2 separate regions of the Homo sapiens genome follow, and region 2 is linked to region 1. Evidence: fine-mapped expression QTL. Tissue or cell type: whole blood. Region 1 holds a variant in brackets; the other region holds the start of a gene. All regions are shown on one strand. Distances are between the middles of the regions.

Region 1 (8,104 bases):
CCTGCATTGGCTCAGGGCAGTCAACCGTCGCAGAGGATGAGGGGCACACTCAGGCAGCCTCCCCGGCCCTGGAGGCAGAAAGGCCCAGGCAGAACCACTGACTGGGAGGAAACAGAAAAAGCAGAGGAGAGCCAGGCTGCAGGCGTGTGGATGGGACCAGCTCAGGCAGACGCTGTCTCATACCCACTCTCCCCTCTCTTGCCAGGGCCTGGCCTGGTGTCTCTCAGGAGCCTGGGCATGAGACAAAAGCAGAGATTGTTCTCTTGTGGTACCACAGGCTGTAACCAGTCCACCCAGTGTTGTTTTAGAAATTTAAATCGGTTGCCCATCTTTTTAAATTGGCAACATCGTTTACCACATTAAAATCTAGATGCCCTGCTTCTCTTGAAAATGTCAAAGCTTGGTAATGCCAGGTCCTCACTTCTACCTGGGGGGAATGGAGTCACAGAGATGTCAAATCTCTTCATGGGGTGTACACCCTCCAGTTTGCCACAGTCCTCACCACCCCAGGACTCACGCCGAGGCCTTTCCAGTGCCCTTGCACCATCCTTTTTCTCGTAAGAGGAAGATGAAGTGGGGCTCTACGCGCGGCGTATCACAGGTGAGGGCGAGACCAGCAGAGAGGGCTGTGCTGGCTGTGGCTTTGCTCGGCCTGCCCCATCCATGCTGCAGTGGTGCGGAGGAGCAGGGAGCTGTGTAGGGCCAACCCCGGTTCCTGCCTCAGCTCCACCCGCCTTGCACCTGCAAGTGAAAGGTCTTAAGACGAGCAGGCCCAGGGCACCCTCTACTGCAGGGTCAGGTGGAGGTGCCTCCACCTCCCAAGGCTCACCCATGCCAGGGGCCCAGAACTTGAGAGGCCAGCACCAACTCTCCAGGGCCGAACGAAAACCAAACCCCAGGGCTTTGGACTCAAACCATCGAGAGGAAGCAGCAAGAGGTCCCAAAGGTACTTGAGTGACACAATGATCATCATTCTCTCCTCAGGGGCAGGACAGGGGCAGGGGAAGGTGAGTGGAAGCCCATTGCTCAGATAAAGAGCAGCTGCCACGGAGGGTAGCCCGTCGGCCTATGCCGGCGCTCACTGGTGTCTTCCTCTAGTGCTTGGGGCTGGCATGGAATCTGCTCAAATGCAGGCAGCTGAAGGTGAGCCCGCAGCCTGGTGATCCCAAGTGCCAACCATGAGGAAGTCTGGAGAAAAGACCAGGGAGCAGGGGCCCTCGTGAGGAGCAGGAATTGGCAGCAGGGGCCACCAGCAGAACACCAGAGGGGACAGTGGCAGGGGGAGGAAGATACAGCCAGGCTGGGTCTCAGCCCCAGCTGAGGGTCTCACCTCTTAGCTGGTGAAGGCTCCGGCCTGTTCCTGCTTTCGGTCACCACTTCATCCCTGGGTGATCGTGGGCCCGGTGCAGGGCTGGCTACAAGTGTTTGTTGATTGGTAACTGCTCATGAAAATGGCAACAGCACTAGCACAGCTTCACAAATAGAAACACATTTCACCAACACCCTTGCAGGAAGCCCTCCAGGAGGGCCAAGACCATCCCTGCTTTACTGTTATGGACGTGAGCCTCCGAGAGGCAGTGACTTAGATGCTCACCCAGCCAGGAAGGAAGGAACACACTCGACCCTCAGTCTAAGACCCCATCAGGCCACTAATAATTCTCCCTCCAAACCCAGCTCAGGTCAAGGCCTATCTTCACCCCCAAATCATCCCTAAGGCAGCCTCAACTCTCCACAGCACTACAGCCATCCTGCCCGGCCCCAGTGCTCCACAGACCCTAAACCCGAGCCCTCCCGGGCTTTGTTGGCCCCAAACCACCTACACTTGTTACGTGTTATTTTTACACTGGCGTTTCCCCTCAGCCTTGCATACTGTGTGGTGTTGTCTGACACCACTTTTCCAGCTCTCTGACACCAACTGGGGCTAGTGTCAGGTTCCACAGATTAAAGGGCTCAGTCCCACACTTCCGATGGAGTCACAGATGGGGTGCCCAGGCTACCCACACTTCCTGGGCTACCCACACTTCCTGGGCTACCCACACTTCCTGGCCAACTACACATTCAGGGGTTCCCATGACTCCACCCCCTCAGGTTCAATAATTTGCCTGAGTGACTCAGAACTGAAGATCACCCTGCCCTGACGCTTCCTGGTGTGGTGTCCTCAAGGATGCAGTGTGGGCAGGAACAGCCACGCTTGAGATGAACAGGGTTAGGGATGGGAGCGACTGGCAGCCACTGCAATCTCAAGTTTTGGGGTTTTTTTTGTTTTTTTTTTGAGACGGAGTTTTGCTCTGTTGCCCAGGCTGGAGTGCAGGGGTGCAGTCTTGGCTCACTGCAACCTCCGCCTCCCAAGTTCAAGTAATTCTCCTGCCTCAGCCTCCCGAGTAGCTGGGATTACAGGCACCCGCCATCATGCCCGGCTAATTTTTGTATTTTAGTAGAGACGGGGTTTCACCATGTTGGCCAGGCTGGTCTCGAACTCCTGACCTCAGGTGATCCACCTGCCTCGGCCTCCCAAAGTGCTGGAATTATAGGCGTGAGCCACCGCGCCCAGCCCTGAATCTCAAGTTTGTAAAGTGCTCCACCTCTGTCACTCCAACTCCCAGGAGTCACTGCTTGGGATTGAAAGTTTCCGCCCTCGAATCACCTGGTCTTTCTGGTGCAGGAGCAACCCCGAGGCAATCTAGGGGCCCTGCTCTAACGAATTCATTAGCATGAACTCAAATGGGCTGGAAAGGGGTTATGAATAACAAAAGACACTCACCACTCACGAAATTCCAAGGGTTGTAGGAGACCCGTGTTAGGAACCCAGGAGAAAGACCAAATATTTCTTAGTATCCCACACATACCCTTCCTTTAGTTCTCCAATTATCATAATTCTATTCATCCTTCACATTCCACCCTCACCTTCTATGAAAGTGCCCTGAATTTGCTGCAGGATAGATTGCTCCTGGAGTGCAGCTCTGGTGTGAGCTTTCAGAGGCAGCGCAGTGCCCTGGGCAGCCTGCGTAATCCACGACTGTCAGATCAAAGGGCAGTGTGACCCTGGCCCACAGTGGCAGGAGCTGAGTGCCACTGGCTTGGCCCCGGGAACCTGCGCATCTCCCCTCTGAGCCAAGGAAACAAACAACACAGACAACAGTGTCTCCCCGATGGCCCCATCCCCAGGGTGGAGGCCCTGCACCGGGCACTGCTCTGCGCGCGCGCTCCCCAGCAGCCAGCAGTGTCTGGAGGATACTGGAAAGCTTGGCAAGAGTAGGCTGAGCAGCTCCTCTGTGGACAGAAAGGGCATGTGGAGAAGCGGCACATCAAGCTCTGGTTAGGATCCAAAACCAAATGCCAGCTCCTAGGATCCCCAGACCAGGGTGTGAAACACACCAAGAGCACCCCAGACCCGCACCAGTTGTGTCGACTGTGACAGTACCCAGAGTGGAAAAAACATGAACTCAAACTGTGTTTTCCTCCACTGCTCTCTCAATACCAACAGACATCTGTGGCCAAATGTGTTGGGGATTTCTCCCCTGACACCAAGCAAGCAAGCAATTCTGCAGCCTACATCAGCTGGGTATCCTCCAATTCAATTCAGTGCTCACCCTACCTATAGTATCTGGAAATGGAATCCACAGGTTCAAGGCTCTGTCCCACAAGACCGCCGCCTCTGCCACAACATTGGACTGACCACCCTCTTTGGGTGGCATGATTTGCCAAGAGTGGCTCACAGAACTCAGGGAAACTTATGTTTACCAGTTTATTACAAACATTATTAGAAAAGGATACAAATAAGTAAACAGCCAGATGAAGATACACACAGGGTGAGGTCTGGACGGGTCCTGGGCAAATGCTGGAGCTTCTGTCCCCATGGAGTGGGGGTGCGCCACCCTCTTGGCACATGGACAAGTTCTCGTTCCCCTCCCTCCACATGTTCAGCTCTTCAGAAGCTCCCGTGTTCCTGGGCCTTTTATGGAGACGTCATTGGATAGGCATGGCTGAAGCATGGCAGCTGTGTTGAGATGAAACTGGACAAAAAGCATAAGGTCTAAACCCAGCAAGGCCTGTCTGTCCAGATGCTTCTTGGCCTCTCTGTGCAGCGTTCCTCCTTCCGGGTATGGGGCAGCACCCTCTCTGGAATGAGGGTCTTATGAGCTACAGTCAGATTAAAGTCTGGTGTTGAGCAAGTGAAATGGGGCAGGAGAAGGTCACAGACAGAGATTCCGTTTTCTGAGGCCTGCAGTGTCCCAACATTATAACAAAGGGTTATGGGAGTGATGAACCAGGAACTGTGGACAAAAACATCTACACACGTATAAAATATCACAGTGCCCTGGGCTGCAGCTGGAGTGTGTGGGTCATAATTCTTGCAGATGAAACAGAAACAGCAAGACTGTAGGTACTGCCCAAGGTCTCCTAGCCAGTCAAGGCTGACCAGGAGTCCACAGACCATGGCACAGTTCTGGGCCTGACATGGAAGGTGGGAGCATCCAGATCAGAGACCATTCCCACTGAGCGGTGGCCAAGGACGGAATGACAGAAGAGGTGATTAGTAACCACATATGGCTGTTTATTTGA[T/C]ACAGGGCTCTGTACAAAATATTTACACATATTCTTTACAGAATAAGTAAACCACCTGAAGGTAATTAGATAATGCTTTCTTCTCAATGACAGGGAGAATCCTGGTGTCAGCAAAGTTAGAAAACAGATAAACATTCTCCTTCCGAGGCCACAACTCAAGCAAATGCCACTTGCTTCCTAGGATCTGAAAAGCTGTGGCCTTGGGACCCTGGTCACATGCACCTCCTTTCCTCAACCCCATCAATTCCTTCAGTATTTACAAACAGGCTTGAGTACTTGTGGAAGGAGGGGCAGCTGGTGCCGCCCACTGAGAGGATGACAAGAGGGCCAGCTTGCTTTGGGAGAGCACTGGGAATATCTGCCGCATCATCACCTCTGGAAGAATTTCCTTTGCCCTGATGAATACACCACTGTCTAAATTAATCCATCGACATCACACTTACCCCACAGTGGGGCTCCTGAGCCATGGACAATGATCCATCCCTTTGAGCTTTTTTTGGTTTTAAAGTGCGTAGTGGTGGCTGGGCGTGGTGGCTCACACCTGTAATCCCAGCACTTTGGGAGGACGAGACGGGCAGATCACCTGAGGTCAGGAGTTCGAGACCAGCCTGGCCAACGTGGCGAAACCCCATCTCTACTAAAAATACAAAAATTAGTCAGGCGTGGTAGCAGGTGCCTGTAGTCCCAGCTACTCGGGAGGCTGAGGCAGCGAGAATTGCCTGAACTTGGGAGGCGGAGGTTGCAGTGAGCTGAGACTGCACCACTGCACTCCAGCCTGGGCAACAGAGTGAGACTCCATCTCAGAAAAAAGAAAATAATAATAAAATAAATAAAAATAAAGTGCTTAGTGTAACTCAGCGGACAGGGCTCCCAGCTGCTCTGGCACGTGGGACACCCTCCACCCTGCACACAACAGGCATGCAAAGAGGACTGGATATGGTGGGGTAGAGTGCTTCTGGTGTGTTCACTTTAAGAAAACATCTGCCAAGAGAGAAGAGTGCCCAGGAAAGACCAGGAAAATACAAGTACATGGCTGCTTCATACCATATACCCCAATTCTTTAAAGCAGCAAAAGGCACTTTTTTTTTCAGGCCAGAGTGAATCTAAAACAAACCTGGCTTTGCTTACAGGGAAGCTGTCCCAGAAGGACTGAGTGATGCCTCTTGTTCCCTAAGGTCTGGAGAGTCTTTGCAAGTTTCCAACGACATTTCCAACCAGGTGGGAGAGACCAGCAGTTGACGAGTCAAGTCAGACCCAAAAAACGACGCCAAGGTAGTGAGTGGGTGCCTATTTGGGAGTAGGATGATTTGAGGAAAACAGGAAGAAAAACCGGTCAGAAAGTGGCACTTTGGAAGTGGAAAGCTGTTTGCAAATAGCAACTCTGGCTAAAGCGAAAATGTTAATCAAGTAGAAAGTAAAATTCAGGATCTTAGAAGCTCATCCTTCTGATGAGAACTATTTTTTTTTCCGTGAAGGAACTATTATTACTTTAAAAGTGAGGGTAATTTACATATGGGGTGTATATATTCTAAAAATAGTAATAAAAGTACCTTTTATAAGCAATGTTGTGTGGCTTGTAGAAGAAAGCAGGGAGGAAAAAAAGGCAGGCAAAACTAGTCTAGGTCTAGGCCCTAAAAATGAGCTTCCTTCCCACTTGACTGGAAACGCCCATGTGATTTCTAGGCTGAAAATAGGTAGGATTTAACGAGTAACCTAGTTCCCTTCTGTCTCTGATTTCTGATCAGCTGATGGAGCTGCTAGTAAGAGGGGCCGATCATGCTCCCAGACGAGTCCTTTGGCCTCTTGCTCTCCATCCCAAGCCTGACTCCTTCAGCAGCAGCCCCCTCCTTCTGTGTCCATCTGATGCAGGCAAGCAGGAGCAGTAAGAGGGCATCCCATGTTCCAGTTCACCTTCTATGGGGTGACTAGGAGGTTCCCGGTAACTAGGGCAGCCCAGGCCCAGCAGGTTGCAAAAGCAGCTGCAAGCTTCAGAAACCCACTTCCTCCAACACCAGGGAGGTGGCAGAGAGCCCATCCAAAAGCCCACTGGGAGAGGCATAAGATTCTGTGCCAGGCCCCCAGGTCCCCTCTGTGTCAGGTAGGCTCTGCTACTGGCCTCTGAAGTAAAGGCAAACACAAACGGGCAGGGCAGGGTGGCAGGAATAAAAAACTCTGGACAGAAACCCTTTTAATAAAGGAAATTCCACCCCTCCCAATCCTTCCATGGAAGGGTGAGACCTTAATGTGATGTAAGAGGAAGGTCTTCTCTGGCTTTCAGGGAAACAGCTGCAGCTGAAACTTAGGGGCCCATTCCAGGGCACTTTTCACCACAGCCAGTGCAGCCGCTCCAAGTGCCACTGTCAGCCCCATCACTGCCAATTTCACAAAGCGGTTGGTCCTTGGCTTGGTCAGGACATCTTTTGTTCGATCTTCAGGCCGCAGAAGTCCCCGAAACCGCTGCCGCAGCACCATATCAGGCCTCTGCTGGGCTGATGCCAGCTCAAAGTCTTTGAAAGTAGAGGCTGCCGTCCTGCAGGGGAAAGAGACGGAAGGAAGGAAGTGGTATGAAAGAGGAGGAGGAAAGCAAAACTACACCACATAGGCTGCGGGCAGAGCCTTTCATTGCTGGGAAAGCTCTTTATGATAAAGACCCATATGTCTACAGTGGGGATTCCACTGGCCTAAGCTCAGATCTCTGGAAACATGCCCCAACCCTATCCCACCAGACACAAACCTTCCCTCGCTTCTGCTCATTTACAGCCACCCCCATTCAACCAGTGTCCCAGCCTTGCTCACCTCTCAGCTTGCTGTTGGGCAGCGGCCTCCCGAGCAAGTTCGGATGGGGGAAACTGAACAAAAAGGTCTCCTGCTCTGCTGATCAGTGTCTCATAGGGCAAGTCCTGAGGGATCTGGGACAACAGGTGGTGGACCGAGGCCATGTCACAGTCACAGTCCAGGACTTCCTGCTCGCGATACAACACAATCTGTGGGGAGGTAGTAAAGCCTTGCAGTCAGAGGCCAGACACACAGGGCCTGGGCCACCTGCACTCCATTATCCTTGCAGATGAATTTAAACTGGTAACAGACAGGACTCAGCCCAAATGTTGAGCAAACTCTTGTATCCATCAAGGAAGTAATAACATATATACGCTCAGTGCTACTCCTACTCTCTGGCCCTTCCTGCAAACTTCCACCACATGACATGAAAGGCTGACCAGTTACAATCTAAGTCCTTCGGGCATGCTGGGCTGCTCAGGTGTCCCTTTAAGTCTTGAAAGAAATGAAGGAGATTCTTTTAGGAGAAAGTAGGAGAATTATTGGGAGATTCCTGGAGCTCCAGCATAGAAGAAATGGTTCAAAACAGTAGAAAGAACAGTCTTGCTCCCTTTAAGCATCTTCCTTCTGACTGTTGGTCCACAAATCCACAGATGCTCAAGGGACCAGTGGTCATTGAAGGACTTCCCTGAATTCCCATCTCCACCCCATCCCTCAAGACCCTTCTACTAACTGAAGCCCCTACCCTCCACCGCAAGCCGCCTCC
Region 2 (8,104 bases), 27 kb after region 1:
GTAAGTGATTTAGTTTAGTTATTGTTCCTCTGGAAAAAACTGGCTTGCAGTAAATGACATTATTTTTCCCATACTGTTAAGGTGATGCTCACTGCAGAACTCTCTAAACAGATCTGCAGACTCTTTGGCCTGTTTCTAACACTACCGGTGTTTCCCAGAGGAGGATGCTGTCCCAACGTGGATTTCGGCTGCTGTTTTTTTCAGGCCCCAACACCACCCTCCTCAACCCCACAGCCTAGTGATTAAATGTCAGTGGCAGATGGAGAAAGCACTCCCACGTGTGCCACTCTGACAAATACTTTATTCCAACTAAATGTATAGGCTCTCACTGTGACATAAAAAGGGAAGAGGAAACAGAAAATTCAAGTGAGCTAAAGATGTATGAATTACAGAGTGAGATCAACTGCTAGACGACACAGGGAGGGAGTTAGCAGCGTCTCCACTGAAAGACAAATTCACAGACATCCTGTTTATTTCCGAAAGAGAAACATCATAGAGCTATTCTTGGGATGTTCAGGAAAAGATTAAAATAAATGCCTATTATCTATTGTATTTCGAGATAAACTTTATAGATTTAGAGCAGGACACACATTTCTGGACTTGAGAACGCTGTATCTGGCTTGGAATAAAAGCCCACATTTCATCTAGAGGTAGAATGTATGTCATTCTAATCTCCCTCAATCCTTTCTTCTCCAATTTCTTTATTGCCCCACTTACAAGATAGTGCACTATTATTCCAAAGCTGATACCTTCCAAATTCCTTTATAGTAGAGGTCTTGGCTATCATAACCATGATGGAACGAATGACCGTCCTACAGCTGGCTGCAAAATATAAGACTGCTATAAATAAATCCCTGATGCCTGAAAAGTAATTCATTCAACAAAGGAAGATAGGTATGACTTTGGCCTACTCTTCATTAGAACGCTTATTTTTATTTATTTATTTATTTATTTATAAAGAGGGCAAAGCAGACTTTATTTGAGGGGCACCACAGCAATAGGTATAGCAACAACTGCAACAGGGTTTTGTAGTCAGGGAGGGAGATCAGACTCAACTCCCTAAAATGCTAATTTTAACAATGGGACACTTCATCTGAACTGTGGTTCTTAATGGTTCAGATAAAGATGACACAACCCACTATTGGCTTAAACTTCTCCCAACTCTGGCTACAGAATCCAGGTAAAGATTTCTGCCCCCTCAGAGTAATAGGCATGTCCAAAATCACCTGGATTAGGGCACTTAATACACTGGGAAGGGACGATAACAACTAAAGATGACCACTATCCATGCCTCCTCTAAAAGTTTTTTCATATATTTTTTCATATCACCAAAACAAATACTAACTTGGATCAACTAATTTATATAATGGAATCTCGTGTGAGCGTACAAAATTCCATACTGATTATTTGGTTTAAGCCTGCATTATCATAAAGGCTTTACAGTCTTTAAACTGAAATTAAGCTCAAATTAAGAAATGCTAGTCTTAAAACAATGGAAGGGGGGGGCCGTTTTGTGTGGAGGGAGGGAGACAGACATACCCCTACACCCACCCACAACTACTGATATTGACATTGGAAATTAACTTGAAAATTTATGCCTGTAGTCCCAGCTACTCAGGAGGCTGAGGTGGGAGGAGCACTTAAGTCCAGGAGTTGGGAGATGACAGTGAGCTTTGACTGTGACACTGCACTCCAACCCGGGTGACAGGGCAAGATCCCATCTCTCAAAAAAAAAAAAAAAAAATGCTTTAACTCCACGTCTGTACCAGAAGACCACAGCAGGAGAGGAAAACCTTATTTCAGTCTGGGTAAGAGTTCTATTAAACACAAAATAAAACAAACTAGCCTCTGTTTCTGGAGGTCTTCATTAGTAGTTTCTACAAAACAGTATCCAAATTAGCAAAGATTCTGTTAACTACCTGGAAAAAGCAGGTACCAAGAAAGAATGTTTCACTACAATGGAAAAAAACAGTCTAGTAAGTAAACCAATCTGACTATAAACGCTACAAAAGAGGGATTCTAGCATTAGTAACTTTGCCAACAATACTCTGATATGATTAAAAAACAAAACAATAACAAAAACAAAAAACCTCATCTTTAAATTTGTCCCATTCATCCAGAGAAGCAAAATCAAGGAAACTAGAGGGGGTAAAGTCTTGCAACAGATACACAGCTGCACTGCCAACAGGTCACAAGACCCATGCTGCCTAGGGCATTGACTGTTATGCCATGAGGACAGACATCACACAAACACCAGTAATTAAAGGGTTACGGTGCCAAAGGGTTCAGAGCTCCACTTCCATTCAGTATCAGAACATAAGAAAAAGGGAAAAACAGAAAATGAGCCCAAATAAAATATAAAATAAAATATAGATACCAGGAGCTTCCTCAAAATATGTGGGTTGTATTAATAACGTGTTTGGCTCTGTTACGGGCACCATCCATCAGAGGACTGGAAATAGGGAAAGTCACCTTAGTCTTCCTCAAGGAAAAAAGATTATTTAACTTGGTTCACGGTGTACATTCATAATTTTAACTGTCATGTATTTATTGAATGAAAAACATTTGAGAACATCATGTGCAACAAAAACATGATTTCACAGAAATTGTCCAAACTAAAAGAGTATAAAAATAGAAGCGCTTTTTATACAATTATTTACTTATTATTATTATTGAGATAGGGTCTCCATCTGTCACCCAGGCCGGAGTGCAGTGGCGCAATCATAGAGTAGCCTCTAAGTCCTGGGCTCAAGCGATCCTCCTGCCTCAGCCTCCAGAGTCGTTGGGATCACAGGCTCGAGCCTCCACACCCGACTAACTTTTAAAAACTTTTTGTAGAGATGAGGCCTCGCTGTGTTTCCCAGCCTGATCTCGAAATCCTGGCCTCAATCGATCCTCCAACCATGGCCTCCCAAAGCGCTGGGATTACAGGCGCGAGCCATGGTGCCCGGCCGCTTTTACACAATTGAATAACATTAAAATAGGTGGCAGAAGACAGACAGAAAGTCGATTCGTGGTTGCCAGGCGTCGTGAATACCGGGGAACGCGGAGTGCCTATTAATGGGTAAGGGTTTCGTTTTGGAATCAGACAGCGGCGATGGCTGCACAACTTTGTGAATTTTCTAAGAATCACTGAACTGTGCACCTTAAAGGAAGAACTGTGTGGTAATTACATCGGCGGTACGCGGGCAGCGCGTCAATCAAGCCGGCGACGGTGAATGCAGTTCGGGAGAGCTGATACCCCTCGGGGAGGCGGCTCCGGGAGCCTGCGGACGTGGCGGACGCCTGGGACGGGGTGGGCCTGGCCTCCGCGCTCGAGGAGTCCCAGTCCTCTCCAGATGGAAGAAAGCCGGGGCGCGAAGCCGCCGCCCGCTCTTCTGCCTGGGGACGCGACTCTGCCGCCAGGCTCCCTCGGGTCAGCTCGGCACCCGCCCGAGCCCCCCCAGTTCCAGGCCCTCTCCTCATCAGACGTGCCCTGGGCCCTCAGCCTGTTCCTCTCGCCGCCCGGAACCCCGCAGCAGCCCCGGGTCCCCAGCCCGCGCCCCTCCGGCGCCGCCTCCGCCAGCTGCCCCTGCCCCCCGGGCCGCCCTCGCAGGCCGCTCCCGGCGCCCCGGTCGGCTTCCGTACCTGCCTTCTCCGCGCCGCCGTCCCAGTGGCCGGAGGTGGGGCCGTCGCCCTGCGCACTCCGGAGGGCCATGCCCCGGGGCCCCGGGCCCCCACCCGAGCCCCGGCTGGTGGCGGAGCCGGGAGAAGACGCGGCTCCGACCGCGGGACGTAGCACCCGCTCGGCATCGGCAGGCTCCCCTCCGTCGGCCAGCGGCGCGCAGGCGCGCAGGCGCCCCGCTGGCCCCGCCCCGCGCCGGCACGTGACCCTGCGCTACGCCCGGCCGGCGGCGGGGGAGGCTGCGGAAAGAGCGCGGTGAGCGCTCTGAGGAGTTGGCTTCGTCTGCGCTGTAGACTCTACGGTGTAGAGTGTGGCGCTCTTGAGCGAGTGTGCTCGAGACCAGCTGTCGTTTCCTTTGCTTCTTTCATCTGTAAAATAGTATTGATGATAATAAAAATATTGAACTCACAAGGTTATTGAGAGTGTTTAGAACATCACCAAGCATATAGTAAATACTCCACAATTATGACCAATTTTTGCTTACCAAGGATTATTTTTTTACCTCCTGTCTCGTCTCCCCACACGAACTCCTGTCATCAGTTCTTGGGTACTTGGGGATCTAGCAGGTTCATGTCATACGGGTCCGCAGGTTATGCACTGCACAAGGCCTGGGAGCGCCATTTACGTAGACGTTCACGTGAACCGTGCCCCCTTAAGTTGTGCGAAATAGTGGCCACTCATCTAAAGCAGCGCTCTGGCTTATCAGGTCTGATTTCCTTCTCGTCTTCAGTGATATTCCTTTCTTTCCAATTAGACATCCATTCCCTTGGTTATATCCCTGATATTGTGATTGTGGCCTCCCGAATTTCTAGTGCTAGGTCTTCATGCTGAAGTTCCCATAATTCCAGTTGCTTGATGACTCTCTTCCACCTCCCACCCCCAACCACAACAGTTCTTTATTATCCTGAGACCTCCAGCCCATGAAACTCCTGACCTCGTGATCCGCCCGCCTCAGCCTCTCAAAGTGCTGGGATTACAGGCGTGAGCCACCGCGCACAGCCAAGTTTTACAGTTCTATTCATAAATCTAGTAAATTATATCAGTTATTTGGTCCCATTAATAAACTAAGCTAATTAAAATCCTTTGAACATTTGAAACTGCATTTATAAATTCAATTCGTTTTTCTAAGTATCACAGGTTTCTAACAAAGCCTTTCAAGTCCTTGTGTAATTCTTGTAAATGTAATACATTTATAAGAATACTGAGTCATGAGTGCTTTCAAATGTGTCAATACAAACGAGATTTCATCTTAAAATCAAAAGTCTAAATCTATTCAAATACATATTTGTAATTAGTACAAGAATAATCTGTTAGAATTCTCAAAATTATCTTTTTTTTTTTTTTGAGACAGAGTCTCACTCTATCACCCAGACTGGAGTGCAATAGCGATCATAGCTCACTGCAGCCTCAAGCTCCTGGGCTCAAGCTAGCCTCCTGTTGCAGCCTCCCGAGTAGCTGAGACTGTAGGTACACACTACCATGCCTGGCTAGTTTTTTTAGTTTTTATAGAGGGGGTGGGGAATCTCCCTATGTTGCCCAGGCCGGTCTCAAACTGCCTTCGCCTCCCAAAGCTCTGGGATTACAGGCGTGAATCACAGTGCCAAGCTCTTGAAATTATCTTGAACATTATAGGAATTTAAAGTATCACATTTACACAGATGCCTTAATGCAAAATTATTAATACTAGAAGTTTGAAAACATTTCTAGTCTTTGTTCTAAATCATCTGTGAGGCTCATGCCTGTAATCCCAGCACTTTGGGAGGTGAAGGGCTGCAGATCACTTGAGGTCAGGAGTTCAAGACCAGCCTCACCAACATGGTGAAACCCCATCTCTACTAAAAATACAAAAATTAGCTGGGCATGGTGGTGCCTGCCTGTAATCCCAGCTACTTGGGAGGCTGAGGCAGGAGAATTGCTTGAACCTGGGAGGCAGAGGTTGCAGTGAGCCAAGATTGCGCCACTGCACTCCAGCCTAAGAGACGGAGTGAGACTCCATCTCAAAAAATAAATAAATAAAATGAAATAAATCATCATTGAGGTTAAAAGATGCTTAGTGCCCACTGAAGGAAGATTTAAGTCATCCCAGTTTAAGAGTAACGTGCTCAAGCAATTTGAGATATTTATTCCCTTCTCAGTTTACTGCGCTGGTCATCCAGCCAGCTGGATTCTTGCTTTTGGTAGTGATGGAACAGTGACCCCCACCCCATTCCCACCACCACAACTCTAGGACTAAACAGTTGTGTGGTCGTTGTGAAGCTTGGGCCAGAATTTACTTTCAAAAAATGTCCCGCTTCATGTATAATATAAAGACCTTACAATAAATTCCCATTTCTTCCCTCCTGTTCTTCTTGCTGTTGTCCTACATTTTACTTTTTAAAATCCCTTCCTTCTCTTGCTTTCTCCCCTCTACCCACCAACCACTTGCAAACAACCACTGATCTACATCCTGTCACTATAGATTGGTTTTCATTTTCTGGAATTTTTTATGGACGGAATCATATAGTATGTAGTCTTTTTTGTCTGGCTTCTTTTACTCAGCGTAATTATTTTATAAGCAATCATGTTGCATTAATCAATAGTTCATTTGTTTTTGTTGTTAAGTAGAATTTCATCTTAGAAATATACCACGATTCATTTTATCAGTATTTTAAATTTTTGCATGTGCTGCAAGTACACAATTCATTGCTAATATGCTTGCCTTAGACCAGGCGGTTAGCAAAAAAGATGGTCTGCCCACCTGCAAGCCAAAACCACTCTACTGCCTGATTTTGCACGGCTCATGAACTAAGAATGGCTTTTACCTTGATAAATGTTGAAAAATCACAACTTAATTGTAGCACATTAAAACTATATGGAATTTAAATCTCAGTGTCCATAAACCTTTACTGAAACAGAGTCACGCTCATTCATTTACCTACTGTCTATGGCTGTTTTCATGCTGCAACGGTAGAGTTCAGTGGTTGCAACAGAGATATGGCCTACAAAACCTAAAATATTTATTATCTGCTCCTTTATGTATTTATTTATTTTATGTGTGTATGTATGTATGTATTTTTTTGAGATGGAGTTTCACTCTTGTTGCCCAGGCTGGAGTGCAATGGCGCAATCGCAGCTCACTGCAACCTCCGCCTCCCAGGTCCACGTGATTCTCCTGCCTCAGCCTCCCGAGTAGCTGGGATTAGCCCGCCACCATGCCTGGCTAATTTTTTTGTATTTTTAGTAGAGACGGGGTTTTGCCATGTTGGTCAGGCTGGTCTCAAACTCCCGACCTCAGGTGATCCGCCCGCCTCAGCCTCCCAAAGTGCCTGGGATTACAGGCATGAGCCACCGCACCCGGCCTATCTGCTCCTTTATAGAAAAAGATTGGCAGGACGTGGTGGCTCACACCTGTAATCCCAGCACTTTGGGAGGCCGAGGCAGGCAGATTACATGAGGCCAGGAGTTCGAGACCAGCTTGGCCAAAGTGGTGAAACCCCGTCTTTACTAAACATACAAAAATTAGCCAGGCATAGTGGCACAGGTCTGTAATCCCAGCTACTCAGGAGGCTGAGGCAGGAGAATCACTTGAACCCAGGAGGCGGAGACTGCAGTGAGCCGAGATCACACCATTGCACTCCAGCCTGGGTGACAGAGTGAGACTCCACATAAAAAAAAAAAAAAAAAAAAAAAAGTTTTGTGACCCTCTATTGTAGAGATGGAGGTATTGGGGCTGTTGCCCAGGCTGGCCTTCAACTCCTGGCCTCAAGGGATCCTCCTGCTTCAGCCTCCCAAAAATGATGGGATTTCAAGTTTGAGCCCCATGCCCAGCTCACTTCAGTTATTTCTAAGGTAATTTAAAAAAGATTTTAATTGTACTTACCTTCATTCAATTTCCAGTGCTCTTAATTTCATTGTGTAGACCCAGGTTTTTTTCTGGTATCATATTCCTTTTGCCTGAAAAACTTCCTTTAGTATCTTGTAGAAGGAGCAATGAATTCCGTTTTTCTTTATCTGAAACAGGGTTTATTTCTCCTTTATTTTGAAAGACACTTTCATTTGGGTATAGGATTCCGGAATTTTGGGTGAGCAGTTTTTGTGTGTGTATGTGTTTTTCCCCTATCAGCATCAGCAATAAGGTCACTCCATTGGCTTCTAGCTTGCATAGTTTCTGACGTCTCCATAATTCTTAGCTTCCTCTGTATGCAATGTCTTCTTTTTCCTTGCTGCCTTTAAGATTTTCTTTTGTTTTAGCATTTCGAGTATATCTAATTTTATATGTGTGTGTGTATATATATATATATATATATATATATATATATATATATGAGTTTATTCTGCATGTTCTCTGAGCTTCTTGGATTTTGTGGTTTGCTCTGTCCTTAATGTTGAAAAGTTCTCAGCCTTTAATTCTTCAAATGTTTCTTTTCCTGTTCTCTCTCCTTTCTTCTGGGAATCTAACTA

What was found. PIP is the estimated chance that this variant, and not a neighbour inherited with it, causes the effect.
Region 2: it holds the start of TBC1D20, and the variant in region 1 is fine-mapped to the expression of TBC1D20 in whole blood (TOPMed, PIP 0.95).

The regions. Positions count from the first base shown.
Region 1 is chr20:431,749-439,852 of GRCh38, forward strand. It overlaps RBCK1 (RANBP2-type and C3HC4-type zinc finger containing 1), which reads left to right. Exons shown (of 12, transcript NM_031229.4): 12 at 1-391. TBC1D20 (TBC1 domain family member 20) reads right to left here. Exons shown (of 8, transcript NM_144628.4): 7 at 7,360-7,547; 8 at 3,732-7,093. The coding sequence ends at 6,838. Among named protein-coding and RNA genes, the nearest start is that of TBC1D20, 27 kb to the right of the region's middle. The variant T/C (reference allele first, on the strand shown) is at 4,564.
Region 2 is chr20:458,709-466,812 of GRCh38, forward strand. TBC1D20 (TBC1 domain family member 20) reads right to left here and starts at 3,825. Exons shown (of 8, transcript NM_144628.4): 1 at 3,628-3,825. The coding sequence starts at 3,697. RefSeq lists silencers at 3,208-3,356, 3,425-3,914, 4,195-4,264.